Regions from separate parts of the Homo sapiens genome. Here all the other regions are linked to region 2. The links come from fine-mapping of genetic effects on gene expression. A gene starts in region 2. Each other region holds a variant in brackets. All regions are shown on one strand. Distances are between the middles of the regions.

Region 1 (5,068 bases), 59 kb after region 2:
AATTCTAAACTACTGAAGAAGTGTTTTGTTGCTGTGATTCATACTTCCAGTGCTGAATCCACTTGAGTGGCTTTAATCTAGAATCTTCAACGTGGCTTTTTAATTGTTTTTAACTGTATGGATGCAGGATGTTTGGTGGCATCTGCTCTTCATTCCTAGTGGATTAGTGACAGTGACAGTGAGCAAGGGGCTTCCTGTGTGGCTGAAGAGGGCGGTTTCGTCACCACCCATTCCGCAGGGGGCAGCTCAGCCCAGCAGGCATTTGGGGACTCGCACCCAGCACTCTGCGGACGGGGGTCTGACTGCACCCGCTCCTCCCCTCCACCCCCCGCTGCCGGCTGGAGGGCACAGTCTGTGCGGTGGCCTTGCCACCCCCTAGCAGGTCTGCATCCGTTCTCCCGCCTGGGCCTCAATACTTGTTTCCTCCTTTTCCTCACTCTCCCTTGCCTAAACCGCCATAGATCATCCCCTTTATGGGTCTTTTCAAAGAGCTGGTTTTATCTATCAGAATTTTAAAATATACTCTAGCTCATTCGTTTTTGCCTCTTGTAGTTGCTTGCTTTTTCTGGGAGAAAGTGGTTTATCATTTCCAGTGCCTGGAGTTGGTTCAGCTATTTTCTGTCTCTTCTTCTCTGCTAATGAAAGCCAACTGGAGGGCGGCTACCCACTTCTGGGTATGTCCCTGCCCTACCCTGTCATCTGAGACCCCCGGCTGCCCCTGACAGTGGCCGATGGTGTGGTTTTATAACCTTCAGCGCTAATGCCTCTAGACCAAGGACAGCCTGGAGAAATGCTTCGAAAATGCCACATGCTCAGGGTTTTACAGGTGGCCTTTTGTTTCTCAACTTTGATTTTATTACACTGTGGCCAGTGTGGCCTGAAGATTGTTCTTTTAATTATTAAAAAAAAATGGGCATGTGCATGAATAGTCAAATTGTATTACACGACTTATAATAAAAACAGAAGCCCTTGCCGTACCACTTCTCAGCCACATGCTGTTCTCCAGACAACCCTTTTATCACTTCCTGCACTTAACTCTGGTATTTGTCTGTCTTTCTGACTGATAGGTTTATATGGGTTATTCTTCGCATACCACGGTTAGACACTGTGTATACATGTCCTCTTATGAACGACAGGGATTGCCCTCACACACCCTAATGTTCTTCTCATCATCATCAGTATAGCTGTGTCACAAGTATAATTTTTATTAGTTTGATTGTCTTTACATTATTTTGACTCTGTAAATATTGTGACTGCTGAGCCAAATAGTGAACTATAGTAACTTTTTTTCTAATAACTCTTCATTTTTCCTGGAGTTCATAGTTGCCTTTTCTATTTTGATTGGCTTCGTTTTTCATCTCTGATCATATCTCACTCATTTGTTCCAACTTTACCAGCACAACTGGTCAACCCTTTCCAATACTGTTGTTTTTACAGAATCAAACACATTGGACAATCCATCAGTTTTTTCTCTCCACTTTGTGAAGATTTCCGCTCAGGACCTCATTGTTACTGCTTGGAGCAGATGCTTTGTAGGCCTCTGGATTTGGAGATTGTGGGGCAGGTTAACTCTGCCAGATTGGGGGCCACTGATGAGTTTGTCCCTCTGCCCATTCCAGGGATCCTAAGATGGTTCCCAGGAGCAGGTGACCTCATTGTATTGAGGGTAAGGCTCAGAGTCCACAGCCCCTCCTCCACGTCCTTCTAAAGCAGTGCTCTTAGGGAGGATTTCTCTTTTTTAGAGCTGGGATCTTGCTCTGTTGCTCAGGCTAGTCTCAACCTACTGGGCTCAAGCTGTGCTGCCACCTCAGCCTCCTGAGTAGCCGGGACTATTGGCTTCCCTGAGAAGCCTGATGCTTTAGTGGGGAAGGTGTTTAGAGACCAAGACGTGGGTGCTGGGGTGCCCGTTACTACTGGGGTGCTGCAGCTTCTCAGCCCCTCAGCCGGCAGAGTTAGGAAATACATGGCTGTTCAGGAAGCCACGCAATGGGGAGGAATGAACTGTGGACAGCTGGGGACCCTCGTAGGCCACAGTGCAC[C/T]GTGCCAGTGTTAGCAGCTGCCACATCCGCCCCACACTCCTTGCCCCTGCTGTTTTGCCATGACGCAGATCCCAGGCATCACATTCCTGCATTTGGAAATGCCTCCTCGTACACCTGAAGACAGGCCTTTGCAACAACACGACGCCAACACCACATCACACCCGAAAACCCAGGCGACTTTCACACAGGGCCTTCGCAACAACACGACACCAACACCACATCACACCCGAAAACCCAGGCGACCTTCACACAGGGCCTTCGCAACAACACGACACCAACACCACATCACACCCGAAAACCCAGGCGACCTTCACACAGGGCCTTCGCAACAACACGACACCAACACCACATCACACCCGAAAACCCCGGCGACTTTCACACAGGGCCTTCGCAACAACACGACACCAACACCACATCACACCCGAAAACCGAGGCGACTTTCACACAGGGCCTTCGCAACAACACGACGCCAACACCACATCACACCCGAAAACCCAGGCGACTTTCACACAGGGCCTTCGCAACAACACGACGCCAACACCACATCACACCCGAAAACCCAGGCGACTTTCACACAGGGCCTTCGCAACAACACGACACCAATACCACATCACACCCGAAAACCCAGGCGACTTTCACACAGGGCCTTCGCAACAACACGCACCAACACCACATCACACCAGAAAACCGAGGCGACTTTCAGACAGGGCCTTCGCAACAACACGACACCAACACCACATCACACCCAAAAACCGAGGCGACTTTCTTCACGTCCATGTTAGTAATGCCTTTTCTCAGCTGTTTGTCCACACAAGGGCTGGCCACGTTAGGTGGACGCCCGTGTGCTGTCTCCCTGCTTCAGGTCCTGCTGGATCAGTTCCCCAGTGGCCGCTCTGCCTGCCATTCTGCCTACCTGGCTACCAGTCGCTGTGGGCTGGGGGTGAGAGCTCACAGCTGGATCAGAACCCCCTCTGTGGCCCCCCTCGGGAGGTGGCTGCCTTCTCCCACCTTGCATCGGAGGCGAGATTGTGCAGGGACCAGAGGCTGCCCTGGTCTGCCTGTGAGAAAGCCCCTGGGTGGTTGCTGCCAAGGAGCATGGCTGGGCCTGCGAGACAGGGTGCCCCGATCTGCCTGGAAGTTTTCTGTCCAGGCCGCCCTCCCTCATCGCCTCTGTCCCGTGTTGGCTGCTTGGAATGCGTCTCTCTGGACCTCATCTGGGATAAACAGCTGCTTCTCTCCCCTTACTCCTCAGCTGTGGGGGAACGCTGGTTTCCAGGCCCACTCACAGGATTTTTAATGTTCCGCCCAGACCTTGCTAACACCTCTCAGCGGCTAAGCCTATTTCTGTAGATTCTCTTACTTATGTTTTGTTTTTAAATTTTCTATGTAGTCAATCTTTTTTACATTTCAAACCTTTTAACCTTTGTTTTTCTCCTAAGAATTGTATAGTAAAACCCGCACGGGGACCGCCTGGATGCCGTAGGTTCTGTTCACGGGGTTTGCTGCGTTGTTACGTAGTGGGTCTCCTCGCCCGTGTCCCCCGTCCCTGCGTCGGTGCTTCAGCGCACATCAGGGTGGGGCTGGTGTCAATGCTTCCCACATCATTAGCTGGAACTCACCGCACACTGCGTCTTTCCCTCCATAAAGAACTTGCACGAGCCCCATCAAGGTATAGGGAGTGGCCGTCACCCCAGAAAGTCCCGTCATCCCCACTCGTCACCGCCCGCATTTGTACAGAGATACAGCTGTCTTGTTCTAAGGGCGAGTCCCTGTGAGAACGCGTGGAGCGTTTTGTCCCTGCCCCCACACACTCCGCCGGGGGGTTTGGCTTTGTGCCGGTGCCTGGCTGGCGGGTGAACTTTCCACAGGGCCTGCCTTGTCCACGTCTCTGCAGGGAGCGCAGGTCCGTGTGCCCACCCAGGAGGTCTTGGACCCAGCAGCCCCTCAAGAAGGGCTATGGCGACTGTTCACCGCAGGAGGGCTCTGCGCTGTCTGAAAAGGGGAACAGAATGCCCCAGTGGAAGCAGATTTGCAGGTGATATTAGGGAAGCTTCCTCCTGCCTTCTACTTACCTGGACTTCTTATCCTCCAAGGCGCTTGACTCACAGTCTTACCTCCTTGAGTTGCCTCCAGAAGAAAATGGTCTTTGTTTTACTGAGTTCCTTCTAAGCGCAGTCTGTGATGGGGCCCGTTCTGTCCTGTCCTCGCCCTGCTGAGCACTGAGACAGAGACCCAGGCGACCTGCTGACCGAGGCCAGCTCACGAGCCTGCTCTGGGCCACGTGGTGCCGAGTTGCTTCCTCCTTCAGGCTCTGATGACACTGAAGCTCCCCGGGGAGAACAGCGGTGTCCTTTGCTGCTGGAGATGCCTGCAGATGCTTGCTCTGGGCATGCAGGGGCCCCTGGGGAAGGATCCGCGCCTGGCTCCCTCTCTCCATCTGTCCCTCGTTTTGGACGGGAAGTCGACTATCATTCCTGACGTTCCAGTGTAACGTGTTATGTTTCTCTGATGGCTTTGGGGATTTTATCTTCCGTTGCCAGTTTCTTGACTATGATATGCCTACTTTTTACCAAATTTGGATAATTTTTGCCAATATTTGGGGGGGTTGCCCCATGTTCTTTCTCCTCTCCTGTGGCTCCACGGACATGGACATCAGGCCTCTCCCTGCCTTCCACGAGCTCCTGGGCCCTGTGCTTCTGTGTGGTGTTTTCTAAAAGCCTCTCATCTCTAGAATGAGTCACTGTGGCTGCTATGTCTTCGTGTTCACTGCCTTTTCTTTCGTTCTTCACTCTGCTGCTGAGCTCAGCCAGGGGCATTTGTGCTCTGGAGATTTTAGTTCTTGCTCTGGAGTGGGCCTGGCCTTCCTCCGAGGCTCTGTGTCTCTGCTCAGCTCTCCAGCCCGCCTGCCTGGCAAGCACGTTTTCCTGTGCTTTCCGGTCCTGATGCTTTCCTGCGTCCGTGTGGAGCCAGCGCTTGGGGTGTGGTGTGTAGAGAGGGGAATGTGGACATGCAGTGCGTGCTGTGGGGGC
Region 2 (5,068 bases):
CCCCACAGCTGCCTCCCATACAGGGACCCTCAGATATGCGGGGGGCCTGGAGCCCACCTGTGTGGTCGCCATGGTGGTGCCCATCTCCAAGCCCTGCTTCAGCCTTGTACACGGCACCGCCGCCAGGGTGGGGTCCCAGCTCCGCGCCCGAGTCGGAGTCGCTGTGGCCGGCTTTGGCGCTCTTCCTGCGCCGTGGCTGGTACTTGTAGTCGGGGTGGTCCTTCTTGTGCTGCACGCGAAGGCGCTCTGCCTCCTCCACGAAGGGCCGCTTCTCGCTCTCGCTCAGCAAGCTGCAGCACAGGGCAGAGGCAGGGATGGCCAGGGCGCCCACTGTGCCCTCGGCGCAGGCACACACCACAGGGGGAACCGGCAGCAGAGGCCGGGGCCAGGAGGCTCTGACCAGGGAAACCCGCCTGCCGTGCGCTCCGGAGCCTCCCGTGGCACCAGGCAGTACACTCCTCTGGGAGAACCGGCCGGCGCCTGTTTGGGAAGGTTGGTATGCTTACGACAGCCAAAGAAGAACAAGCCCCACGCCTCCCATCTTCCTCCTTCTATTTCCCCCTATTCCGGGCCTGCTGTTCCCTCCCTCTGGGGCTTTCTAAGGGAGGCGGGGGAGGCGGGCAGGACCCAGCCGGCGGTGGACAAAAGCGAGGCTTCCCGGGAACGGTGCCGGCCTTCGGCGGGCAGCTGGGCTGCTGTCCCTCCATTCCCAGACACCCAGAAGCCCTGGCAGGGCCCAGGCGCCCGTCCTCACTGAGCCACAGGACACACTCCTTGGGACTCTTCCCGAGGCTCACCTCCAACCGCCTGTGCGGCAGGACTTGGGGGAGCAGGGGCCTGCCGTCCACAGCGCCCCGTGGCTGCGCCCTAGATCCAGACAGAAGGCAGGAGGTGCAAATACGCAAGCTCCAAGCTCCCTTCTTCCAGGTGAGGAGCAGGATACGGGAACCAGAGCCCCAAACCAAGAGAACCATTTGAAACCCAACCAGAGGACACTCGGTGGGGGCGGCCTGTCCTGAGCAACAAGTTCTTCACTCTGCAGTCCTAATTTCTGGAAAACTGACCGGCCCCACCACGCCAAGGCGTGCACACGGCGCACCCCGTCATCTCCACTCCTGCCCTCCCTGCTTCGGACCGAGGGTGTCCAGGAGAGGGAGAAACTGCGGGGAGGGTACTCGCAGGCAAACCTGCTGCCCACCCATCCGCCTGCCGCACTCCCTCCCCATGGGTGGTCCAGGAGCTAGAGGAGCTGAGCCCTTTCTAAGGAGGGAGCACCTCCAGAGAGCCGCATGCAACTTGCTGTCGTGCCGGGCGTGCCTCCCGGGGCTGGGGCCACTCGCAACGGCTGGAGGGCACGTCGGGGTGCCAGCCATGGCCCTCCGCAGGGTGTTCCCCGCCAGGAGAACTGGCTCCAGAGCGCACCCGCCACGAGGGTGCACACCCCAGGCGCTGCCCTCCGCGGATCCCGACTCCCATAGCTGGCGCCGGACCCCGGCTGGCCAGAGGATGTTTTTCCACTGGGACCCGCCCTGACACCCGCCCGGGGTGCAGAGCCCGGAGCCTGCGTGTGGCCACCACCTCCGCGAGCTCTGCGCCCTCCAGGCCCCCGCTCGCAGTCCGAGACCAGGGGCGGCCAAGGTCCCGAACCCCGCCCCCGGGGCGCCGGCACTCACCGCCACAGCTTGCCCAGCGTCTTGCTGAGCTCGGCGTTGTGCAGGTGCGGGTACTGGTCGGCCAGCTTGCGGCGCGCCGCCTGCGCCCACACCATGAATGCGTTCATGGGCCGCTTCACATGCGGCTTGGCTTTGAGCGCGCCGCCGCCGCCGCCGCGCACCGGCATGGGCACCAGACTCCAGTCGTAGCCCTTGAGCACCTGCGACACGGCGTCGCGGATGCAGGCCGGGAAGCGCTCGTCCGCCGCCTCCGCCGGGTCGCCCCGGGCGCCCCCCACCGCGACCCCCGCGCGGCCCAGGCCCTCGGAGCCGGCGGGAGACGGCGGCGCGTCCGAGTCCGAGTCCTCCACGTGCGACATGGAGCTGGCGGTGCCGGACGGGCTGCAGGGCGGCTGGGAGCGGGCCTCGCTCATGTCCAGCATCGGGGCCGCGCGCGGAGGGGCGCGCACAGGAGACGCGCACCGGGGCCGGCGCCCGGGGCTGCCCTGCGGTCGCTCCGGGACCCGAGGTCGCCGCGCGGTGGCCCCGACCCTCGCCCCTGCCGCCGCCGCCGCCGCCGCCGAGGCTCGGGTCCCGCTGCGGGACCCGCAACAAGTTTCTTTAAGCGGCGGCCCCGCGGCCCCGCCCCGCGCCCGGCTACCCATTGGCGGAGCGCGCCCCGATCCCCCGGAGGCGGAGCCCGGCCGCCCCCGCCCCCCCACCCATAAAGAAAGCTCCGCGGCTCTCGCCGCGCCCCCGCCTGCCCCGCCCGGCGCCGCACCACGTGGGCCAGGCGCCCCACGCCTGGAGCTCCCCTCTCTGGAGCCCCGGGAAAGGAAGCGGGGCAGGGAGGCCGGGTGGGAGCAGGGGGGTCTCCGGCGCTTCCTCTCCTCTGCGGGCGCCGCGCGGCTCCTGAGAGTCCGCCCCCCGTCCTGACGCTCAGCTAGGAAGCGGGTCCTCGGGCCCCTCCCCCGACACACACACACACACACACACACACACACACACACACACACACTCTCTCTCTCTCTCTCTCTCTCTCTCTCTCTCTCTCTCTCTCTCACACACACACACACACACACAGCCCGTCTCGCGCCTGAGGTCTCGCCCGCAGGCCGGTGGCGCGGGGTCAGCTGCTGCCTGCGGTCCAGGACAGGGTCGGTTCCGCCGCGCAGCGCCCAGGCCCAGCTCGTCCAGAGTCTGCGGACAGCGCACGTCCAGGTAACGCGCTTCAAGGGGCCGCGGCTCGGAGCTGGGGGACCCCGGGCCGCCCTGCCCATACGAGTGCGAGCGTGGAGAGCGCGGGCGGGGGCGCGGTCCCGGGGGCCGGCCAGCTGGAGGGGGCGGGAGCGCTGGGCGGGGCCTGCGCTGACCCCGGCGCTGAGTCCCTGGGGCCGCCGGGCGGATGGCGTGGCCGGACGCGGGGGCCCCGGGCCTTCCGGGCGTGACCTAGGGCTCGGGGGCGGGGAGGCCCCTCCGGCGGGGCGGCCCTGGGTGGTCCGGCAGAGGCGGAGGCCGCTCCGAGCCTGTGAGCCCTGGGCGCCTGCGGAGGCGGGGAGAGGGCGGGGTGTGCCGCCCTGGTGGGGACCGCGGGGTCGGAGAGGGGACATTGCCCCCCCCGAGGCGAACGTCCAACCGCGGGTCCGGGTCCCCGCCCAAGGCCGCCCCGCGAGGTGGCCTCGGCCCGGCCGTCCCCGAGGGTGGCTCGGATCCTTTCAACCAGCGCGCTGGAGGCGAAGGGGCTGCGCCATTCCGGGTCAGGCAGCCAACGCGGGACACGCGCGTCTCCGAGCTTGCGGCCCGCGAAACCCGGGTGACCTACCGCGCCGGTGCCCTCAAAGCCCCCACGCCCGGGCCGGTGGCCGCTGCAGCCACTGAGCCACGCGGTCTCCCCGGCCCGGTCGGCAGAAGGAGCTGGTCCGTTACTAGAAAAGTCCAGATGCAAAGTCGGGGGTCGTGCTGCCGCTTCCTGCCAGCGCACCGCACCCACCTGGGGCCGCCACCGACCGCACAGGACGCGCCTCCTACCCCCTGTTCTGGCCCGGCCGAGAGCTGGTGCCCCCAGCGGCCGCCCGCCCCCGTCCGCAGACCCCGGGGCCCTTGCTGCTTTGCATTGGGAACAACCGGAGCCAGGCCCGGAGCTGAGGGGGCCAGGGCCTTTGGAGGAAGCATTGGCCTCCAGGCTGAAGAGCAAGGGCCGTGTCACCTGCCCGGAGGGCGGTCTCATCTCTGCAGCCAGGTCAGAGGAAGCAGCGGTGGGGAGACGGAGTGCGCGAGTTGGGAGGCTCCACGCATCGTAGGTGGAGAGCTGGCTGCCAGCCTGGCCTGCCCTCTCTTCCCCGTCCCACCATCTCGCTTGGCTCCGGCACCTGCCTGGGAAGACCCACACCTCCGTCTGCAGTGCCTCTTCCCCCTGGAGGCCCTGCCCTCCGCTCGGGGTCCCCGCATCCTTCCGTGGCCCTCAGAGCATCGCCTGGGGCGCCCGCGGAACTCATCTGTTAGGCCTGGGATGCAGGCAGGCAGAAGTGGGGGTTTAAGTGGAAGCAGTGAGGGTGGGGGTCCGGTCCAAACTGTGCCACCTTCCACCCCCTGCCCCTGGGAGAGCAGACATCGCCCACTCGGGCTCACAGTGCCATCCGGGTGAGGACCTCCGTGGAGAGCTCTCTTTGCCAAAGAAAAGCAGTTGCATTAGGTCTGCGAGCAGGCAGGGTGGCCTCTTCCTGGCTCCCCATCCACCAAGGAAGCTTCAAGTCCCTGGGACACAGGTGGGGAACTCCAGCACCCCTGGAGGAAGGGAGACTGAGGTTGGGGAGTGGCATCCAGGCCCTGACTCTGGGGCACGGTGGTCTGTGCAACTGAGACCCTGCCTCAGGCTCCAACAGCGCCTGCTCCTTTCCCCAGGTTGCAGTGATCACCAGGGGAGGTGCTGGGCGTGCAGGCTGCCACAGGAGGGGTGGGGAGGTGGGGAGTCTCTGTGGCGGGGTGGTGGGGGCCTAGGCCAGTCAGCTGAGGACGTGTTGGTGCACTCCCGGGAGGGCGGTATGTGGGTGAGGATCCCCATGCAGAGTGGTGCCCACAAACCCCCCTTCCAGAGTCATCTCTGGTCCACCTTGAAGTCCCCAGGAAAATGACCTCGTCCTCCGCGGGTGTGAGCCACTAGGCCTGAGAGGACGCCGGGACGGAGCTTTCAGAGAGGGAGGTGTCGGGATGGCTTGAGGGTCACCAGGTATTAATTAAGCACTTGCTGTGTGCCAGGCACTTTCCCACACAGGATGGAGCCGGGCCACCCTCACAGCTCCTGCCCTGCAGACGCTGGCCTTGTGGAGGGAGGCAGGCAGCAGGTAACTCCAAAAGCACCTCTCAGAGGCGGGGACTTCAGGAAGGATGGTCTGGGAAAGCATCTTTGGTGTCATTTA
Region 3 (5,061 bases), 170 kb after region 2:
CGGGGGCAGTGGCTCACACCTATAATCCTAGCACTTTGGGAGGCCAAGGAGGGCATGAGCTCAGGAGTTTGAGACTAGCCTGGGCAGCATGGTGAAACCCCATCTCCACTTAAAATACAAAATTAGCCGGGTGTGGGGCAGGCGCCTGTAGTCCCAGCCACTCAGGAGGCTGAGGCAGGAGAATCACTTGAACTCGGGAGGCAGAGGTTGCAGTGAGCCGAGATCACGCCACTGCACTCCAGCCTGGGATAAAAAAGCGAAACAGTCTCAAAAAAAAAAAAAAAAAAAAAAAACGGGGAGGTCTGGCTCATGTCACTCACCCGCAGCTGGAGCACCCCCGAGGAGCCCCACTCAACAGTGGCTTCTCTGAAGATGAGCCACAGAAGTTCAGTTCCTGGGGAGCAGGGCTGGTTCTTTCCTGCTTTTAATGCTATAGGAAACCTCGGCTGCTGGGGAGGCTGCGGGCGAGGGGCCGCAGACAGGCCGAGGGTCTGCAGGAAGCCGCGAGTCGACAGGAGAGAGGGGATGAGAGGCGCGCTGAGCAAAGGCGGCGAGAAACGCTGCCGTCACCTCCTGCCCGGGCCCCGTGGGGCCGCCCGGCCGCCGCCACGCAGACGTGGTGTGTAAAACCGTGGGTCAGCCCGCGTCTGCTGGTCGCCGGGGAGCAGAGGCTCGTTAAGACCGTCTGTTAAAAGCCAGCGGCTTCCATCGTCACTCAGCTAAAAACGTGTCAGTGGAGAGCGGAGCCAAACGTGCTTTTTCTAGGGGAGGAAACAGGCTTTTCACACACCGGCTGTCGCCAGGACCAGGTAGGTGTGAGGGCCTGGCGGGCGATGGTGGGTGGCAAGGGGATGGCCGGCAGTGGCGCCAAAGCGTTGCGTCTTGCCAGAGCCTCCCTCCTCGCCTCCCGGTCAGATCCTCACCCTCCCTCGCCACCGCGCGCCTGCAGCCGCACTCGCCCCTCCCAGCCTTGGCCGGAGCGTCCTCCAAGGTGCGGTGCGAGGCAGCAGACAGAGTCCCCATGCCAGCCACCCTCCCCTTCTCGCTCCGTCTTGCCAGGCGACTCCGAGTCTTCAGCGGCAGAACGTGGTCCTCCCTTCGGGGTCCCTGAGCTGCAATGCAGCCGCTTGAGGCTGGGGACGGCTCCAAGGAGCCCCCAGTCACCAAGAAGCAGCCTCCAGAAAGGCCGCTGCGGGTTCCGGGGAAAGGCGGCCTGAACGTGCATTCCCGTGAGACTGCCTGGAGGGGCGAGCTCTGCTGCGGGGCAGGGGGTGCCTGATGTGGGCTGAGGCCTGTGCAGAGAAGCCAAGAGGACACCTGGACCCTCCGCCGAGTCCAGCCACCAGAGACCCAGAGCCCCCCACGAAAGCAGAGCCTCGGGCCGGGCCCTGTGGCTCACGCCTGTAATCCCAGCACTATGGGAGCCCGAGGCGGGAGGATCACGAGGTCAGGAGACTGAGACCATCCTGGCTGACACGGTGAAACCTCATCTCTAATAAATATACAAAAAATTAGCCGGGCGTGGTGGTGGGCGCCTGTAGTCCCAGCTACTCGGGAGGCTGAGGCAGGAGAATGGCGTGAACCTGGGAGGCGGAGCTTGCAGTGAGAGGAGATCGCACCACTGCACTCCAGCCTGGGTGACAGAGCGAGACTCCGTCTCAAAAAAAAAAAAAAAAAAAAAAGAAAGCACAGCCTCTGCTCCCTGCTGAGGAGGCCCCAGGCCAGGGGAGGGGGGCTGCCCCACGTGTTCCCGCTGGGTAGACCCCTGCCCCCACCCACAACAAATGGGGCACAGCAGGTGTGGAGGGGGCAGCCTTCTGCACCCCTCCTGGTGCTCAGCTCTCTCCCGGGACCCCTGCACCTCCCAAGGGCACCAGGCCTCCCCTGGCCCCGTGCCTTGTTGGCTTCCAGGCCTGACCCTACGTGACCTCTTCTCTGGGGTTCCCCTCACCTCCTCCCAGTGCCAGGGGAGGGACACGGGTGCCTACAGGGAAGGTGACAGGTCCCTTCTAGCCTCGAGAAAAGTATGGTAAGCCCCGGTTGAGGGACCTTCTAGGAAATCCCGACCTTCCTCCTCAAAACCGCCCAGACCACCAAAACCAAGGGAAGTCCAAGAAATGGCCACAGCCCAGGGGGGTTCACAGCCCAGGGGTGCTCAGGCAGCCAGACGGGAACTGTCCCAGGATGGGGAAAGGCCCCTCGGTGAAGGCCGAGGACTCCGGTAAACTGCGTCGATCCTGGTTCACGCCAGTGTGGGGTGTCACCTCCACGGGACCCTGCGGGGAGGGCACAGATGGGGGCTCGGCTCTGTCTCCTCAGTGTTTCAGAAAACCCACAGCTGCCCAAAAGAAAACCTGTTATTTGTTTAAAGTACTAAGATTCCTGTCATCCCAGCACTTTGCGAGGCCAAGGCAGGAGGATCGCTTGAGACCAGAAGTTTAAGACCACCCTAGGCAACATACTGAGCCCTCGTCTCTATCAAAAAAAAAAAAAAAAAACATTAAAAAATTAGCCAGGCACGGTGGTACCCACCTGTGGTCTCAGGAGACTGGGG[C/T]AGGAGGATCACTAGAGCCCAGGAGAGGTCAAGGCTGCAGTGAGCTAGGATGGCGCCAGTGCACTCTGGCCTGGGTGACTAAGGGAGGCCCTGTCTCAAAAAAATACATTTTTTGGCTGGGTGTGGTGACTCACACCTGTAATCCCAGCACTTCCAGAGGCTGAGGCAGATGGATTACTTGAGGTCAGGAGTTCAATACCAGTCTGGCCAACATGGTGAAACCCCATCTCTACTAAAAATACAAAAATTAGGCGAGCGTGCTGGCAGGCGCCTGTAATCCCAGCTACTCGGGAGGCTGAGGCAGAAGAATTGCTTGAACCCAGGAGGCAGAGGTTGCAGTGAGCCGAGATCACACCACTGCACTCCAGCCTGGGTGACAGAGCAAGACTTTGTCTCAAAAAAAACTTTTTAAGGTAGCACGATTCACCCATAATGACATCAGCCCAGCATTTCCACCAACCTCAAAAGAGAAGAGACGGGCCTGGCTGAGCCCCAGCAGCCCACGTGCCACACTCCGAGTTTCTGCACAGCCTGGCTGTACTCGCGGGCCCCCATCTCGGCCCCACTTCTCCTCAGCTGCTTCTGGGGTTTCTGTGAGTAATTCCCCAACAATTCGGACCTCAGTGACTCTGGACTGAGGAGTCTCACCTCCCAGAGTGACTGTGGTTATAAATAGGATTTTCTCAAGCTGGTTTCTACTCTGAAAACTGTAATAACATATGTCTGATCCTCGTCTTCAACAAAAAGATTTAAAAGCAGCAAAGCATGGCCAGGCATGGTGGCTCACGCCTGTAATCCCAGCACTCTGGGAGGCCAAGGCAGGTGGATCACTTGAGATCAGGAATTCAAGACCAGCCTGGCCAACATGGTGAAACCCCATCTCTACTACAGATACAAAAAATTAGCCCGGCGTGGTGCCGGACGCCTGTAATCCCAGCTACTCGGGAGGCTGAGGCAGGAGAATCGCTTGAACCCGGGAGGCGAAGGTTGCAGTGAGCCGAGATTGTGCCACACTGTACTCCAGCCTGGGCAACAGAGCAAGACTCCATCTCTGAATGAATGAAGCAAAGCAACGTTGGTAAAGACCCCACAACAGGCATCTGGCGGCTGTGTCCAGACCATGCTTCTCAAAGGGGACCCAGAAAGCTTCCAGGGTCCCCGAGGTCAAACCTGTTTTCCTGACACTTCTAAGAACGGTTTCCTTCCCATTCTTATTATTTTTTTTTTGAGACTGTGTCTCGCTCTGTTGCCCAGGCTGGAGTGCGATGGCATATGGCATAGTCTCGGCTCCATGCAACCTCCACCTCCAGGGCTCAAGTGATTCTGGTGCCTCAGCCTCCGGAGTAGCTCGGATTACAGGCGTCCGCCACCACGCCTGGCTACATTTTTGCATTTTAGTAGACATGGGGTTTCACCATGTTGCCCAGGGTGGTCTCAAACTCCCGCCCTGAGGTGATCAGCCCACCTCGGCCTCCCCAGGTGCTGGGATTACAGGCCTGAGCCGCTGCGCCCGGCCTCCTTCCCACTCTCCTGAAAGTGTGGGGCGGAATGTTCCGGAGGCCACCGGCTTGCAAGCAGACGCAGACATGAGAATCCAGCACAAAGTCACGCCTTCTTTTTCTTCCCACTACATTTTTTTTTTATGGGGAAACAGTTGCTTTTCCTTAAAATGCTATGTTCACGTGCAATGGATTTATTGCTATTTTTACGTGAAAAGGTGAACATTTTTAAATGCTCTGTTTCTGGTAGAGTGAATGTCCACAGCGGCCGCCCACGTAAACAAAAGCCCGAATGGTTTTAGGATTGTGAAGGGTCCTGGGAGCCGGGCTGGGCCAGCGTTGGGTGAGGATCCTTCCGGAACCCGGGGTCACGGGGACGATCACACGGACCTGTGGCTCCACCCGGTGGTGACGGCGAGGACGGCGGGAGACCCCAGCGGGCAGGAGCGCGGCCCGAACCGCGCGGCCCCGGGGATCCGCCCAGGGCAGGCAGGCAGGGGTGCCCCGGGCGCTGGGGGTTCGGGGCTGGCCGTCCTCCGCGGCGGGGCGGTCCTGCGGGTCGCAGGGTCCTGGGCGGCCTCCCCGGGCTCCACCAGCCAGATGCCTGCGGCAACACCAGCGGAGATCACAGACGTCTCCAGATGCCGGCCAGCGTCCCCCGGGGGCAGAAGCGCCCAACCCCGTGAGAGCTGCCCAGTCCACAACACAGACAGGACGGTGCCGAGGGAGGCGTCAGCACGGAGCAAAACATTCGCACATGATGGCCGAGAGCTCCGGGCACTTGCTCCACCTCCACTCCGTCCCACAGGGGCTCCAAGCCGGCCGCTCCCCACCATGGGAGTCGGGGTGGACCCAGGGATGGGGAGGCCGTGTCGGTCCGGCGTCCTTGCCGGTCCCGCAGCAATAGCAGAGGGGATGTCTGTGCGGTCGCCGCCCACGGCAGCATCTGCAGGGTCAGCGGCGCAGGAGGGGTTCAGGCCTGGGCGCTCCCTGGGGGTCTCGGCCTCT
Region 4 (5,068 bases), 22 kb before region 2:
TCATATAAAAATCTAGAGCCGCCTTCTGCGAGCAGGCGTCCTGCCCCCCAGGGCGCTCAGGGGAGATATTTCTGCATGAAATACATCCCGTGGCAGGGCCTTGCTCTGAAGCAAAAATGAAGGCAGTAAATTCTGAGGAGGGATTTGTTTAACCTGTCACCTTGCGGCAAAGTGTGGCCCTGCCTGTCCTGACATACTCTCCTGTGTTTTTATAACACTTGGCTCGGCCACCGTGGAGGCTGGAAGAAAATCTGCCAATCGGGTGTTGCGGGGAGGGTTCACTCCTCTCCAGACAGAAGGAGCGCCAAGTCCTCCTGGGTCTACACCACACATCCATCTGCCCATTTTCCATTCACTCACTTGTTCACACCCACCTCCCTCGCTAGCCTTGCGGGGGTTGCTGGACAGGACCACAAAAGCTGGTGCCCAGCTCCGTCCCCAGCACGCCTGCCCCGACACGGTGAGGGGCTTTGTAACACGCCCAGCTCTGTCGCTCCAGACCCTGGGTGCACAGCTGAAGGAAGAAGAAGGAATCAGACACTTTGCCACACTCCAAGCTCCCCAACCCCAGCACAGGAGGCCTGCACAGGGAATGAGCTCTCTGTCTTAGGAGGTAAGCAAGAAGCTGAAAAGTCCTTGGGTTCAGGATGCTGTGGAGAGAGCCAGCTGGGCTAGGTGAACCTGGGGCCTCTACAGGAACACCCCCATCTCTTGTCCCTCTGTCCCCTCCCCCCATCTCTACCCCCTCCCCCGTCTCTTCTCCCTCTGTCCCCTCCCCCATCCCTGCTCCCTCTGTCCCCTCCCCCATTTCTACCCCCTCCCCCATCTCTGCTCCCTCTGTCCCCTCCCCCATCTCTACCCCCTCCCCTTCTCTTCTCCCTCTGTCCCCTCCCCCATCTCTACCCCCTCCCCCTTCTCTTCTCCCTCTGTCCCCTCCCCCATCTCTACACCCTCCCCTGTCTCTGCTCCCTCTGTCCCCTCCCTCATCTCTACCCCCTCCCCCATCTCTGCTCCCTCTGTCCCCTCCCCCATCTCTACCCCCTCCCCCGTCTCTTCTCCCTCCCCATCTGTTTTTTTTTTTTTTCTCGAGATAGGGTCTCACTCTGTCGCCCAGGCTGGAGTGCAGCGGTGTGATCTTGGCTCACTGCAGCCTCTGCCTCCTGGGCCCCAGTGATCCTCCTACCTCAGCCTCCTGATTGGCTGGGACTGCAAGTACACACCACCATGCCCAGCTAATTTTTGTATTTTTTGTAGAGATGGGGTCTTGCCATGTTGCCAGGCTGGTCTTGAACTCCTGAGATCAAGCAATTCACCCATCTCAGTTTCCCAAAGTGCTGGGATTACAGGCATGAGCCACGGCGCCCAGCCCCCATCTCTTCTCACTCCCCCATCTCTGCCCCCTCCCCGCCTGCGTGTCTGTGTGGATACCCGGCTCCAGGGGTCTCTCTGGACAGCCTCCTGGGGCACCCCACATGCTCCCCGCACCATGGGCAAGGCTGGAGCCACCTTCCCTGAATCAATACTGACCCAGGCCCAGGAGTGGGGCTGGGGCTGGGGCTGGGGCCAGGCTTGCTGGTCACTCCTGTGCCTGCCGTGCTCCGGGCTTGGAGACGCATGTGAAGGGTGGGAAATCGCCTGGGCCTCCTCACAGGGCGCTCACGTTCACCTTGGGAAAAATAACAGGTTTTGGTTTTGTTTTCTTTTTCTTTTTCTTAACCACAAAACACTCATCAATGGTTCTGAGGGGGCAGGAAACCTCAGGACTGAGTGTTGTCAGGAAATTGAGCTCCCGGGGCCACACGCGGGGCCGGCACGAGCCAGGGCGGCACATTCCAGAAGGCTGCTCCGTCAGTGCCACCCACTGCCCTATGTGCTTCATGCCCAGGGGGTCCACACAGGGCAGCAGAGGGTCCTCGGGCCAGGACAGTGGACGACCTCAGGGGGTAGAGCCCTCCAGACCCCTGAGGGGCCTTCGGGCTGGTCCCTCTGTGCCTGCCGTGGACCTTGCCTCCTCCTCTAAGGGCAGCAGCCTGTGGGGTCGCAGCCCCCCGTGTCCCTCCTCTAAGGACAGCAGCCTGTGGGGTCGCAGCCCCCCGTGTCCCTCCT[C/T]TAAGGCTTCAACCAGTGCACCTTGGGGGCCTGAGTTCAGCCCAGGTCAGATTCCGCCTCTGATGGGCCCTGGCTCGTGAGGCCTGATGCCGCCACGACCGCGTGCCGAGGGCTTTCCAGGGCGTCCCCTTGTGCCGTGTCCAGGCTGCCATCAGAGGAGTGCAGGGCATGAGGGGCTCTGGGCTTTTCCCAGGAAAGCAGCTGGCAGCCATCCACCCCTTCCCGGGACCACCACCGGGCTCCTGGCCAGCAGGACCTGCGCAGGCCTCTTCCGTCAGAGCAGCACTTTCCACAAAGCCTGGACACTGTCTGGCGTGGGGCTGTGGGGCCGCATGCTGTGTGCAGGAGTGGGTGTGAGCGAGGCCCATGAGGGGGCTGTGGCAGCAGGTGGGGCCCGGCCGCGTGAGTGCAGGGTCTCTGGACCCCGCACGGTTCCTCATTTGGAGCTCAGTCCCTGGACACGGCCACTCCATGGGGCTGCCAGGATGCCCCCCAGACCACGGCCATGGTGCTGGAGGCTAGGGACCCCTCCTGTGGCCTCTATAGCTCCCTCTCCACCCAGCACCCCCTCCCCATCACTCCATGCCAGCTGCAGGGAAGGCCCCCGGGTCTCTCAACCCACACCTTGGCCCAGCCCTGGCTCCAGGATCCCACCCCAGGGGCCCACTCTGCCACGGGACTTTCGTTTTTCCAAACTTAGAGCCGCCCCTGGCCAGCGGGGGCCGAGCCTGCGTCCACTGCTTGGCAGAGGAAATGTCTGCACTTCAGGCCTGTCCCGTGCCCTGGATGAACACCAGCCCTGGGCACTGCCCTCCGCCGTGGGAGGCCACTGTGGTCTTGAGGCTTCTGGGGAAAGGTCAGGCTTGTCTTTAAGCGACGCGATGCCGGTGGCCTGGATGAGTCACCCCCGAACGTGAGTCATCTCAGCTGCTGGGAATCTTCCAATTGTTTGATTGAGGTGAGATCCACATGGCGTAGAATTAGCCGTTCACGGCATGGGGTGCTGTGGCATCCAGCGGGGCCGCAGTATCTTGCAGCCACCTCCCCACGCCCTGCATGTCGTTCTGGGGCAATTTCATCCGGAAGGAAACCCCTCGCCCCTCGGCCGTCCCCCCAGTCCAGCTCTTGCGTCTGCGGACCTCCCTTTCTGGCATTTCCGCAGATGGAATCGCAGGTGGCCTCTCAGGCCTGGCCTCTTCTGCTCGGCGTGTGTCGAGTCCTTCCCTGCGGTGGCTGAGCCGAGGCTGCCCCTTTTCATGGCTCACGTTCCGCGGTATGGATGAGCCACGTCCGTGGGTTCCTTCACCCGGGGAGGGACATCGGGGCTGCGGCAGGTGCACATGTGCGGGTCCCTTCACCGGGGAGGGACATCAGACTGCGGTTGCACAGGTGCACAGATGTGGGGTGCCACAGACCCACGGTCTTGCTTGGTTTACCTGTGTGAGCCCTCAGGTCACCACCAGGAATCCAGCGTCTCTCCCCTCCAAAGATTCAGTGGAGCCTCAGGGAGCCCAGAAGGGGGCTGGGCCTCCCTCCTGCCACATCTCCAGTTCCAAGGGACCCTGAACTGTGCCCAGGTGACAGGGCCCTCAGAGCAAGGGACTGTCCACCACGTGGCTCACTGCCAAGAGCTCCTGGAGGTGCCAGCATTCCGCTGGGCCAGGAGGGCAGCAGCGGCGGATCTGAGCTACAGTTTGGACGGACCCCTCAGGCAGCAGAAGCCCCTCGGAGGCCCAGGGGAGAACTCCACGCCCCCACCCCTGGGGCTCCCTGGAAAGGCACCGAAGGAAAAAATGTTCCTGAAAAACTAAACAAGTGAATTCAGAAGCTCAGGTGTCAGAGCTGGGGCCCCATGACGGGCCAGGGACAGCCATCGGCCCCTCCGTGGACACCCAGGGTTCCCTGGAGGAGAAATCATACAGGGCAGGTGGTGAGAACTTGAACTTCACCTCCACGGTGGCTTCCTCACGGGGCGATGTGAGGCTTGGGTGAGGTGACGCGGCATGTTTCAGGCTGAACGGTGGCCACAGCTGACCCTGGGAATCTGTGACTCTGGCTTGGTTGGGAAATGGAGTCTTTGCAGATGTAATTGATCAAAAGATCTTGCAGTGGGGTCATCCTGGGTTATCTGGGTGGGACCTAAATCCAGCGATGAGTGTCCTCATAGAAGCAGAGGAGGAGACAGACATGCAGAGGAGACAGCCGCGTGAAGCCGGGACAGAGGTTGGAGCGATGTGGCCACAAGCCAAGGGACACCTGGAGCCACCAGGAGCTGGAATAGGCAGGAAGGATCTTCCTCTGGAGTCTCATTGGGGAGCGTGGCCCTGCCCAAGCCTTGATCTCAGACTTTTGGCCTGCAGACCTGTGAGAGGACAGGTTTGTTTTCTAAACCACTCGGCTCATGGCACTTTACTTGGGCAGCCATGTGGCACTGCCACACCCCCGCAGCCAGGCCCTCAGCTCCAGGCATCTGGAGCTGCCTACCCCGCGGTAAATGCTGAGCTGAGGAGGCATCTCCAAGCCACCTGGGCCCCAGCTCTGGGAGGCCCTCAGCACTCCAGCCAGGTGCTCATAGCTGCCGTGTCCCGGGGGCACCGAGGCAGGGCCCTACCCCACTGAATGGGAGGGGCAGCACCTCCAGACCCGAAAGGCCAGCGCCTGGGGAGCTGAACAGGGGAGACCCACCGTCCACACGTCTGCCTGGGACTCTCCTGGCTTTAGCCCTGAACATCCCTCAGCTTGGGGACCCCTGGGCCTAACCCCGACAGGCTGATCCTCCAGTGGATACTCCGCAACCTCCAGGCTTCACTTCGCAGCCCCCATATCTGCCCCTCACACCCAGCAGTTTTTCCTAGAGGCGCCACTGGGCAGCCTGCACGTCGGGGCCCAGGATGCCGTGGCCAGCAGTGGTTGGGATTTCACGGACTTTAGACAGCTGCCAGTGTCAGGGTCCCGGGGGCTT
Region 5 (5,068 bases), 140 kb after region 2:
ATTCTCAGCCCACTGCTGCCTGGATAGCTTGCCCCTTACGCCGCGAGCCAGGCTGCCCACCCAGCCCACACCCGGGCCCACCTGGCGCTTAGCAAATGGCCTTCCCACATCACGCTGGTGGCTTTCCGCACCACCCAGTGTTCACCTGGGCTCCCACACACCAGCAGGAGGCAGCAAGCAGGCACCTCCCTCCCATCTTGCTCCAAGCGCTGTGTGCGGGAGGGATGGAAACCTCCAGGCGCTGGGAAGAAGCACCCCAGGCACTAGGCAGGGGAAGGCTGGGGGGCCTCCGTGCCCACCCCCAGGTCTGAGCGCATTGGGGAACCCGGGGCACCGGGAGGGTTTGCGGACAGTGCCACCCTCCCTGCAGGGCTGCGGCCACCTTACTTTGCCTGGGCCGCCTGGCCAGGGGCCGCAGCTGACCCGCTGAGTCTGGGTTGGTGGCTCACCGTTCTAGGGTTTACACCTGACCCAGTGTGATCTATACCTGCCCAGGTCATACCACACTGTCCAAACTGTTACAGCTTTCAAACCAGCCCTGGACTGGCCGTCATAGCCGCCTTGATTGTCGTTGGCCCATTGCTGGAAGCAAGTTGGCGAAAGCTTCCGTCAGCTCTGACGGTTGGTGTGCAGACAGATGGCGGGCCGCAACATCCTTTCCTCCCCTCCCTGAGCCTCTTTTTCTCTTGGGTGGCAGGTGGGGCCATCTCCTCTGCCTCATCTTTTTCCTAACCTGGAAGTTGTTCCTTAAACACCTGCCCACGGTGGGCTACTGTGAAGCCCTTCACCCGCAGCCATGTGGACATGCTGGAGGAACATCAACAGACTCTCATCTGAACAACAAAAAAGAGGAAAGAACACTCAGCAAAGGAAAGAAGAGGCACTGAGCCAGGTCAGCACCCCGGGCCGCTGGGAGAAGGTACCTAGTCCAGATGATATGGGACACACAGGGGTTTACAGGAAACCGCGACACATTACAGACACGGGACACACACGGGTTTACAGGAAACCGGGACACATTACAGACACGGGACACACACAGCTTTACAGGAAACCAGGACCCATTACAGACACGGGACACACACGGGTTACAGGAAACCGGGACACATTACAGACACGGGACACACACGGGTTACAGGAAACCGGGACCCATTACAGACACGGGACACACACGGGTTACAGGAAACCGGGACACATTACAGACACGGGACACACACGGGTTACAGGAAACCGGGACCCATTACAGACACGGGACACACACGGGTTACAGGAAACCGGGACGCATTACAGACACGGGACACACACGGGTTACAGGAAACCGGGACGCATTACAGACACGGGACACACACGGGTTACAGGAAACCGCGACACATTACAGACACGGGACACACACGGGTTTACAGGAAACCGGGTCACATTACATACACGGGACACACACGGGTTACAGGAAACCGGGACCCATTACAGACACGGGACATACACGGGTTACAGGAAACCGGGACCCATTACAGACACGGGACACACACGGGTTTACAGGAAACCAGGACCCATTACAGACACGGGACACACACGGGTTACAGGAAACCGGGACGCATTACAGACACGGGACACACACGGGTTACAGGAAACCGGGACGCATTACAGACACGGGACATACGTGGGTTTACAGGAAACCGGGATCCATTACAGAACAACGTCAGTGAACCCCAAGCTGCAATGATCTAGCAAAAAGGTGAGAAAATACAAATAGCCAATATCAAGAAGAAAAGATATCACCACAAATCCACAGAGATGCTACAGGAATAATAAGGTAATATTATGAACAACTTTATTCTAATCAACTCAGCACCCTACATTAAATGAGAAACACTCCGTGAAAGGCACAGATTACTAAAACGAACGCTAGCCCAAACCCTAATCCTCTCCCTACAGCCGACGAAGAAAGAAAGCCCAAGAGTCCCATAATAATTGAAGAAACTGAATTTGGGCCGGGCGCAGTGGCTCACGCCTGTCATCCCAGCATTTTAGGAGGCCCAGGCAGGTGGATCACCTGAGGACAGGAGTTTGAGACCAGCCTGGCCAACATGGTGAAATCCCGTCTCTACCAAAAATACAAAAACTAGCCCCCATGATGGTGCACACCTGTAATCCCAGGTACTCGGGAGGCTGTGGCAGGAGAATCACTTGGACCCGGGAAGCAGAGGTTGCAGTGAGCGGAGATCGCACCATTGCACTCTAGCCTCGGTGACAGAGTGAGGCTCCATCTCAAAAAAAGAAAAAAGAAATTGAATTTGTAATTTAAAATTTTCCACAAAGAAAACTTGAGGCCAAGATGTGTTCACTGGCGAGTTCCATGCAATACTCGGTAGAGAAATAACACTGCCCTATCCAAGCTCTTCCAGAAAATGGAGGAGGAGAAGCCTCATACGCCCACCAGGACGGGAGGAGGCAGCCACTCTGGAGAAGTGTCAGTTCTGGAAACATGAAGCGTGAACTTCCTCAGGAAGCAGCCACTCCACTCCTAGGTATCTGCCCGAGAGACATGAAAGCACAAGGACGTGTAAGCAGCGTTTATAGCGGGTTGATTTACTGCAGCCAGGACCCGGGGTGGTGCC[G/A]GTGTCCGTCAGCAGGAGGACGGGTGAACCGGGTCATCTTGGAGCCATCGTCCTCAGAAACAGGCACATCCGGCTGTTGATACGCACAGCGTCGGACCCTCCAAGGCACCACGCTCAGCTAAAGAACACAGACGAAAGAGCTCACAGGGCGCAGCTCCACTCGCGGAACTGCAGGGAGGACCGCGGCCCAACTCCAGTGACAGACGCAGGCCCATGTTGCCGGGGCCGGAACGCAGGGAGATCTGGGAGAGGAATGTTCTGAATCTCAGCTGTGGTGCCGGGTGCCCTTGTCAGAAACCGTCGGTTACATTTAAATGGGTGCATTTTGTGTTTGGAAATCATGCCCGGCTCTCTGGATAAAGCCCTGATTTATGTGGTTTTGAATTTCTGTGATCTAAACACCGTGCCCGCCCCCATCTCCGATTCAAGCCCCCAACACGTCCTCACTCAGCACGGAGCTGGGCAGACGTGCACGACCGGCTCCCACCTGCTGGCACGAGCCCACCTCACCTTGGGGAGTTGATTTGTAAAATGAAATGAGCACAGAAACGTGTCAGCGCCAGGCTGGACCCAGCGAGCCGCCGATGCCAGCGAGATGCCAGGCTGGACTCAGCAAGCCGCCGATGCCAGCCAGACGCAGAGCAGAGAACGCTGGTCAAAGAGCAGCTAGGCGGTGTCTGCTCGGCCGAAGCCCAGTCCCGGAGAGGCAGGCTCTGTACCAGGACGTGGAGGCTCCGGGGTCATGAAACCCCCAGGGTGAGAGACAAAGGTAGTGAGTGGCCGTCCAGGGCAGAGGGGACGGAGGCAGCACGCGGACGGAGCCTCCGCACAGAGCGTCACGGCCACGACTGGAAAGCTCAGACACGTGTCACGAGCCCACAGCCCAGGTCAGAGGCGGCAGGATGGCGGGCGGCCCCATGCACAGAACTGCGGCCACGTGTGGAAGGCGACGGACACTGGCGGCACAGGGTCTACTGTGCTCTGGACCTGGTGGTGGCCACGCTGATGTTCACCCGTGGACATGTTGGAGCTCGCTGTCCACTGTGTGTGCTGCTTTGCGTGAGTTCCAATCCACGCGGAAACTATTATGATCAGAAAATCTCTCTAACTGTGGCGTGTGAGAGCCTCCAGTTCCGGGTGTTGTGCTGTTGTTTTGAGACGGAGTCTCACTCTGTCACCCAGGCTGGAGTGCAGTGGCGCCATCTGGGCTCACCACAGCCTCCGCCTCCCGGGTTCAAGTGATTCTCCTGTCACAGCCTCCAGAGTAGCTGGGAATACAGGCGCCCGCCACCACGCCCGGCTAATTTTTGTATTTTTAGTAGAGATGGGGTTTCACCATGTTGGCCAGGCTGGTCTCAAACTCATGATCTAGTAATCCACCTGCCTCGGCCTCCCAAAGTGGTAGGATTACAGGCGTGAGCCACTACGCCCGGCCTGGGCTGCACTTCTGAGTCCCTGAAGCTTCCACTGTGTTTATTATGAAGAGCTGAGCTGCGGTTTGTCCTCTAACATGTGTGCTAAGGAAGCGGGAGGAGACCCGGCTCCGGGCGGGGCCATTGTGGCTCCTGGCCTCTCTGCCTCTTCCATCCTATTTTGTTTCTGCTGATGGTCGACCCCGGGCAGCCTGAGCACAGCCACCCCGCCCCCCTGCATCCAGGTCACCGTGTCCCGAGCACAGCCGCCCCCCTGCATCCAGGTCACCGTGTCCACCCAGTGATGTGCTTCCCAGGCCGGACTTTTCTAAACTCAGCCTCTGAACCCACCACAGGCCGGACACACGGCGCCTTCCCCCAGCCCCACGGCTTCGAGAGCGCCCTGGCGAGTGCCTGTCCAGGAAACCTTGTTTTTTGTTTTTTTTTTTTGCGACGGAGTATCGCTCTGTCGCCCAGGCTGGAGTGCAGTGGCGCGATCTCGGCTCACTGCAAGCTCCACCTCCCAGGTTCACGCCATTCTCCTGCCTCAGCTTCCGGGGTAGCTGGGACTACAGGCGCCCGCCACCACACCCAGCTAATTTTTTGTACTTTTAGTAGAGACGGGGTTTCACCGTGTTAGCCAGGATGCTCTCAATCTCCTGACCTCATGATCCACCCACCTCGGCCTCCCAAAGTGCTGGGACTACAGGCGTGAGCCACCACGCCCGGCCCCAGGACACCTCGTTTTAAGGGCAGTGAAAGCCAGGAAAGCCACGGCCAGCAAGACCCAGCAAGACCCAGCAAGGCCCACGCCACCCTTGCTCCTGTCGAGGGGCCGGCGCCCGTTTGTCCTCAGGGAAGGTGGTCTTCGCCGCTGGCTCTGGTCAGGGCTGCATCTGGGCCACCAGGATGTTCAGTGCCAGCCCTGCAGCTGCGGGGCCTTCTGTGGTGGGCACGCATTTGCATCTCAATGACCCTGATTAATATTTAAGGAGCCAGCTGTCTGAGACACACGAAAAAAAGGGTGAAAAAAGCGCCTTG
Region 6 (5,068 bases), 33 kb before region 2:
CACCACGCCCAGCTAATTTTTTGTGTGTTTTTAGTAGAGACGGGGTTTCACTGCGTTAGCCAGGATGGTCTCATGATCCGCCCGCCTCGGCCTCCCAAAGTGCTGGGATAACAGGCGTGAGTCACCGTGCCTGGCCAAGGTTAGGTGATTTCTTTTGGGAGGTGATAAAATGTTCTAAAACGGATCATGCTTAGTTCGCACCACATGCTGGCATCCAAACATCTCATGTGCCCCATAAATATATATACCTACTGTGTATCCACAAAAATTAAAAATGAAATAAAATCGATGGTGATAATGGTTACACAATTCCAGCACATTTAGTGGGCGTGCTAAAATCATTGAGCCGTCCATTTTAAAATGGTGACTCTTATGTGAATTATGTCTGAGAAATAAAATTATGAAAAAATTAATAAAGAGCAAACAAGGAAAGAAAAAAAATGCCAAAGAAACTACAAAGTTCAGAGAGTGCCCAGAACCCTAAAGAGGCAGCCAGTGCCAGGGTGGGTCACACTCCACACAGAGCTTCCCGGCGGGCAAAGCAAAGATGGAAACACCCGCAGTATGGGGGGCTGTGGGGTACCATTTGTGGACGATTCACTCCGCTGAGTGTGCCCAGGTGTTTGTCAGGTGTCAACTTGGCTAATCCCAACAAGGTCCGGGCAGGAGGAGGGCTATGTAGATGGGGAAACTGAGGCAGGCCCAAGGTCACCAGTTGATACACGGCAGAAGCCAGACCAGCACCTCAGTGGTTGGGATTGGAGCCTTTGCTCCCAACCCTGTGAGGCCTCCCCACCTCGCCCACCTGCCTGCTTCAGGGTCTTATTCCCTAGAAGGCAGATGTCACCCCCGCAGGATGTCACCCCCTGCAGGGGCCACCACATGCCCCCTCTTTCCAACCCAGGGCCCTCTGCAGCCGGTTCTTTCTTTCTTTTTTTTTTTTTTGAGACAGATTCTCGCTCTGTTGCCCAGACTGGAGTGCAGTGGTGTGATCTTGGCTCACTGTCACCTCCACCTCCTGGTTTCAATATTCTCCTGCTTCAGCCTCCCGAGTAGCTGAGATTACAGGCACCTACCACCACGCCTGGCTAATTTTTGTATTTTTAGTAGAGACAGGGTTTCACCATGTTGGCCAGGCTGGTCTCGGACTCCCGACCTCAGGTGATCCACCCGCCTCGGCCTCCCAAAGTGCTGGGATTACAGGCTTGAGCCACCGCGCCTGGCCTGCAGCCTGCTCTTAAGTTCAAGGAGACGCCACTGTGGGTGACCTATCAGACCAGGCCTGCAGAGCTTGGGGAGAGGATTCAGGGATCATTGCAGCAGGAAGCTGGCCCTTTCCAACAACCACCACGACTAAAGTCTGAAAAATATTTGAAGCCACAAGGATTTTATGAACACGAGGGCCAGGAATGGGTCTGGGCGCTTGTTGGTGCCCTGGCTGGAGAGACCCCAGTCTCCCATGAAGGCTGTATAGAGCAGAAGCACGCGACCTGTGGGTCTGGGCACACGGCTGTCTCTCTGAGGCCAGCTGCTGGAGGAGGCCTGTCCCTGGGTGGACATCAGCAGGAGGAGTGGGCTTCAAGTGACCACAGTTCCCAGGGCCAGCCCCGCACGGAGGCCCCTCAGACCCACAGCTCAAAGCAGAAGGGCCCGGGGTCCTCAGCCAAGACCCCTGCTCCCAGGACGGCTGCGCCCACCCCTGTGAGTGCAGCTCCGCCCTGTCCACCGCCCTGTCCGCCTCTTGTCGGCTCTTCTGGAAACCTCTGCAGTGGACTCGACACAATCCTGAAACACCAGCATCCCCGGGGCCTGCAGGAATGTGCTCCTGCCGGGTGAGCTGGCTTAGACTGGGCGACAAGAGTTCTGTGTGTGTGTGTGCGTGTGTGTGTCTGGGGGTGGGACTGAGGCCTGGGGACTATCTCAGCAGTGCTGGGGCTCTAGGGATCCATGGGAAACAGTGGGCTGAGTGTGCTCTATGTTCTGCTGCAGGCTCTGAGGGCTACAGGCCTTGCCTACCCTGGCATGAGCTGCTGGCCTGCCCTCTGCTCTGAGCAGA[T/C]GTGGGGGTGGGTGGCATCTGGCCACGGAGAGTGGGCCAGGCCCAACACACGCAGCCCAGACCTCTGTCCCGGGGCAGCCTCCCAGGAGGAGCCACCTCCAGCCCTCGCCACGTCACCTCCGGCGTCAGGACTGGCCAGGCCACATCCTCTCCAGACCTGGCCGTCCTTCGCTGCAACCTCGGAGAAGCCACTCTCCTCCTCACCGGCAGCACCTGCCCTGGGGACCCCTTCGTCCCACTCACCTCCAGCCTGGCTGGGACAGGGAGACGACTCTGGGCCAGGGGAACTGGCCCTCCCGGCACAGGCCCTGCTCAGGGCTGGGAGGGAGGCATGGCTCTGTTCTCCCTTTGGTGAACAAGGAAGCCGGCCTCGGGCACTGAGTCCTCCAGCAGGGCAGGCTGGCCAGACAGATGGGCAGGTGGACCCATGGAGGCCACAGCCCCCACTGTAGGAGGCCCCCTCGGCCAGCATCAGAGAACAAGTCCACCCCACTCCACGGACTGGAAGACCGAGACTCACAGGGGCCCGGGGCCACCCCTCAGAAGCCCACACACAGAGCCCAGCCCCACAGACACAGCTCACCCACTCAGCTCACAGGACTGAGCCTAGGATGGGCAGAGGGGACCTGGAAACCCACCCCAGCCCCAGCCCCGCCAACACCTCCTACCTGGAGGCTGCAACGAGAACTGTCAGGGCAGGAGGGGGGCTGCAGGCGCTGGGGCCGTAAATCAGGGCTCCCAGCAACCCCCAGGCCTGGAGGAATTCCAGGCCCCTCCACCGTTTCCTCCCAGCCAGAAGGGGTGTCCTGGGCCCACAACTCGGCTCCCTCCCCGTAGTGGGTACAGAGTGGATCATGAGCTTTCCTGGGCGAGGTCCCCTAAACCAATTCTCTCTCCCCTCTCCTCTCAGCCATCCCAGCTACAGGGAGGACACCGAGGCCAGGAAGGGGGGCGCGTCCATTGCCCCCCAGCTGCATGACGCAGAGTTGGACCCACGTCCAGGGCATGCCTCCGGGTGCAGCTGCTCTAAGCCCAGAGCACTGTGGCCTCTGGAGCACCACCAGTCTCCACAGCCCACTGGCCTGCCCCTGGGTCACCCCAGGCCCCGCCCAGGCCCCCTGGCAGCCTCTGCCTGCCCAAGATCCGCCACCACCCTCCACAGCACCGTGGCCTCCGGAGCACGGTCCGATGCAGGTGGAGGAGGCGCTCCCAGCCCTGGCAGCTACAGCCCCTCCCCAGCCACCAGCCTGGGCCAGGAGCTCCTGTCAAGAGCTGGACACCTGTCCTGGGTTGGTCCTGCCTCACCCAGCGCCCAGCCAGCTCCTCCTCAATGCCACCAGCCCAGCCCAGGACAGAGCTGAGCAAGCAGATGCTCAGGACCAGCCGGAGGGGCCACTTAGGCGGGCAGAACGCAGGGGCCAAGGAGCACCACAGGAAGATCCCAGCCCCGCTGGCGATGGGCACCTGCGTGCAGGCAGAGGGCAGCACATGGAACAGCAACACAGGCCTGCAACAGGACGCAGTGAGGGGGCGCAGGGCTGCACAGTGGTACACGTGTGTGTCCTGTGTGTGCACATGTGTGTCCTGTGTGTGCATGGGTGTGTCCTCCATGTGCACGGGTGTGTCCTGGGTGTGCACTCGTGTGTCCTGGGTGTGCACGTGTGTGTCCTATGTGTGCACTCGTGTGTCCTGGGTGCACACACGTGTGTCCTGTGTGTGCACGTGTCCTGGGTGTGCGTGCATGTGTCCTGGGTGTGCACGCATGTGTCCTGGGTGTGCACACGTGTGTCCTGCGTGTGCGCATGTGTGTCCTGGGTGTGCATCTGACTGGGGGCACCTGTGGGTTTCATCCCCCACCCCAGCCTGCCCCCAGGTCACACCAGGCTCTCCAGGCCCCCAACAGCCTCTGCCCACCTGAGGCCAAGCAACCCCGCAGGTGTCCTGCCCTGCTTACTCCCAGACCAGCCCCACCTCTGCAACCACCCCCCGGGGTCTCAGCCAACAGGAGGTTCCAGTCCCACAAGTTTCAGGAACCACCTGCGGCCAGTATGGGGCTGAGGGTTGGACCCTCGGCCTCACCCTGTCAGGCGCCCCCGCCTGCTCTTTGACATGGGGAGGGCACACAGGTGGGGGCACAGCCCGGTGAGTCCTCCGGACCCTGGGCAGAGGGGCAGGATGCAGGGGCAGAATGCTGACCCCCATCAGCAGCCACCAGGATGGTGTCCTGAGCCTGAGGGTCCCAGGCTCTCATGGCCCTTCCCCGTGCTCCACAGCACTCCAGCCGCCTGCCTAGTCCATGTGGGTCCCAGAGGAGCTGCTGGGCTCTGGAATCATCTTGGGAAAGGCAGGCAGAGGCTGGCCGAGGGTGGGGTAATTCCTGCCTTCCTGGGAATGGGGACAGCCTCAGGGGAGCCCTGGAGATGGATTTTCCCCGATTTACCCAGCTCCCCAGCTCCTCCCAGCAAGATGCTGGGGTGTGGGCTGCTGTGAGACTCCCCATCCCGCGGACCCTGCCTGCCTGCCTTCAGGGTCCCCTGAGTGTTACTAAACAGAGGGGCAAAGCGTGGCCCCCAACGCCCTGAAAGGGAGCCCGCGCTGCGGCCCCAGTGCGGAATCAGGTGCTCAGATCGTTCTGCCGGAGCCTCCACGTCTCTTCCAATGTGCACAGGAAGGGACCCCGGCAGTGTCTCAAACCTGCCATGGGGAGTCTCCTTTCAAAGTAGACTCGAAGCTGAGGGTGACTTGGAAGAATATCGGGCGGACAGGACCACGGTGGCCCGAGGTCCTGCGGGCAGGCTGAGTGTTGGCCGGAGGTAATTCGGGCCTGAAGGTCTCTGTCCCTCCTGCACTGAGCTGTGTGCTGCCCTCTGGGTGGGGCAGCAAGGAAGAGGCGCCCCTGTCGCCCGGGTGCTCCTGCTCACACCAGGGAAAGGGGCAGAGACAGAGAGGGCCCCTCTGTGGTCTGACCCCACCGGAGGAGATGGTCTCCTGGACGCCAAGGCAGGCCACACA

The links.
Region 1: its variant is fine-mapped to the expression of CEROX1 in whole blood (TOPMed, PIP above 0.99).
Region 3: its variant is fine-mapped to the expression of CEROX1 in prefrontal cortex (CommonMind, PIP 0.95).
Region 4: its variant is fine-mapped to the expression of CEROX1 in whole blood (TOPMed, PIP above 0.99).
Region 5: its variant is fine-mapped to the expression of CEROX1 in whole blood (TOPMed, PIP above 0.99).
Region 6: its variant is fine-mapped to the expression of CEROX1 in aorta (GTEx, PIP above 0.99). The same link has a PIP of 0.9 or more in tibial artery.

Annotation. Positions count from the first base shown.
Region 1 is chr16:920,253-925,320 of GRCh38, reverse strand. All of the region lies in intron 3 of LMF1 (lipase maturation factor 1), which reads left to right. It overlaps LMF1-AS1 (LMF1 antisense RNA 1), which reads right to left and starts at 4,288. Exons shown (of 2, transcript NR_110946.1): 1 at 4,154-4,288. The variant C/T (reference allele first, on the strand shown) is at 2,040.
Region 2 is chr16:978,950-984,017 of GRCh38, reverse strand. It overlaps CEROX1 (cytoplasmic endogenous regulator of oxidative phosphorylation 1), which reads left to right and starts at 2,405. Exons shown (of 3, transcript NR_164343.1): 1 at 2,405-4,417; 2 at 4,908-4,993. SOX8 (SRY-box transcription factor 8) reads right to left here and starts at 2,248. Exons shown (of 3, transcript NM_014587.5): 1 at 1,674-2,248; 2 at 58-290. The coding sequence starts at 2,095. It also overlaps a transcript of LMF1 not described here.
Region 3 is chr16:813,234-818,294 of GRCh38, reverse strand. No RefSeq gene overlaps it. Among named protein-coding and RNA genes, the nearest start is that of GNG13, 15 kb to the right of the region's middle. RefSeq lists an enhancer at 655-1,155 and a silencer at 4,494-4,573. The variant C/T (reference allele first, on the strand shown) is at 2,555.
Region 4 is chr16:1,000,856-1,005,923 of GRCh38, reverse strand. No RefSeq gene overlaps it. Among named protein-coding and RNA genes, the nearest start is that of SOX8, 22 kb to the right of the region's middle. RefSeq lists enhancers at 1,665-1,714, 3,366-4,022. The variant C/T (reference allele first, on the strand shown) is at 2,107.
Region 5 is chr16:843,154-848,221 of GRCh38, reverse strand. No RefSeq gene overlaps it. Among named protein-coding and RNA genes, the nearest start is that of GNG13, 45 kb to the right of the region's middle. The variant G/A (reference allele first, on the strand shown) is at 2,616.
Region 6 is chr16:1,011,922-1,016,989 of GRCh38, reverse strand. No RefSeq gene overlaps it. Among named protein-coding and RNA genes, the nearest start is that of SOX8, 33 kb to the right of the region's middle. RefSeq lists a silencer at 2,433-2,634. The variant T/C (reference allele first, on the strand shown) is at 2,057.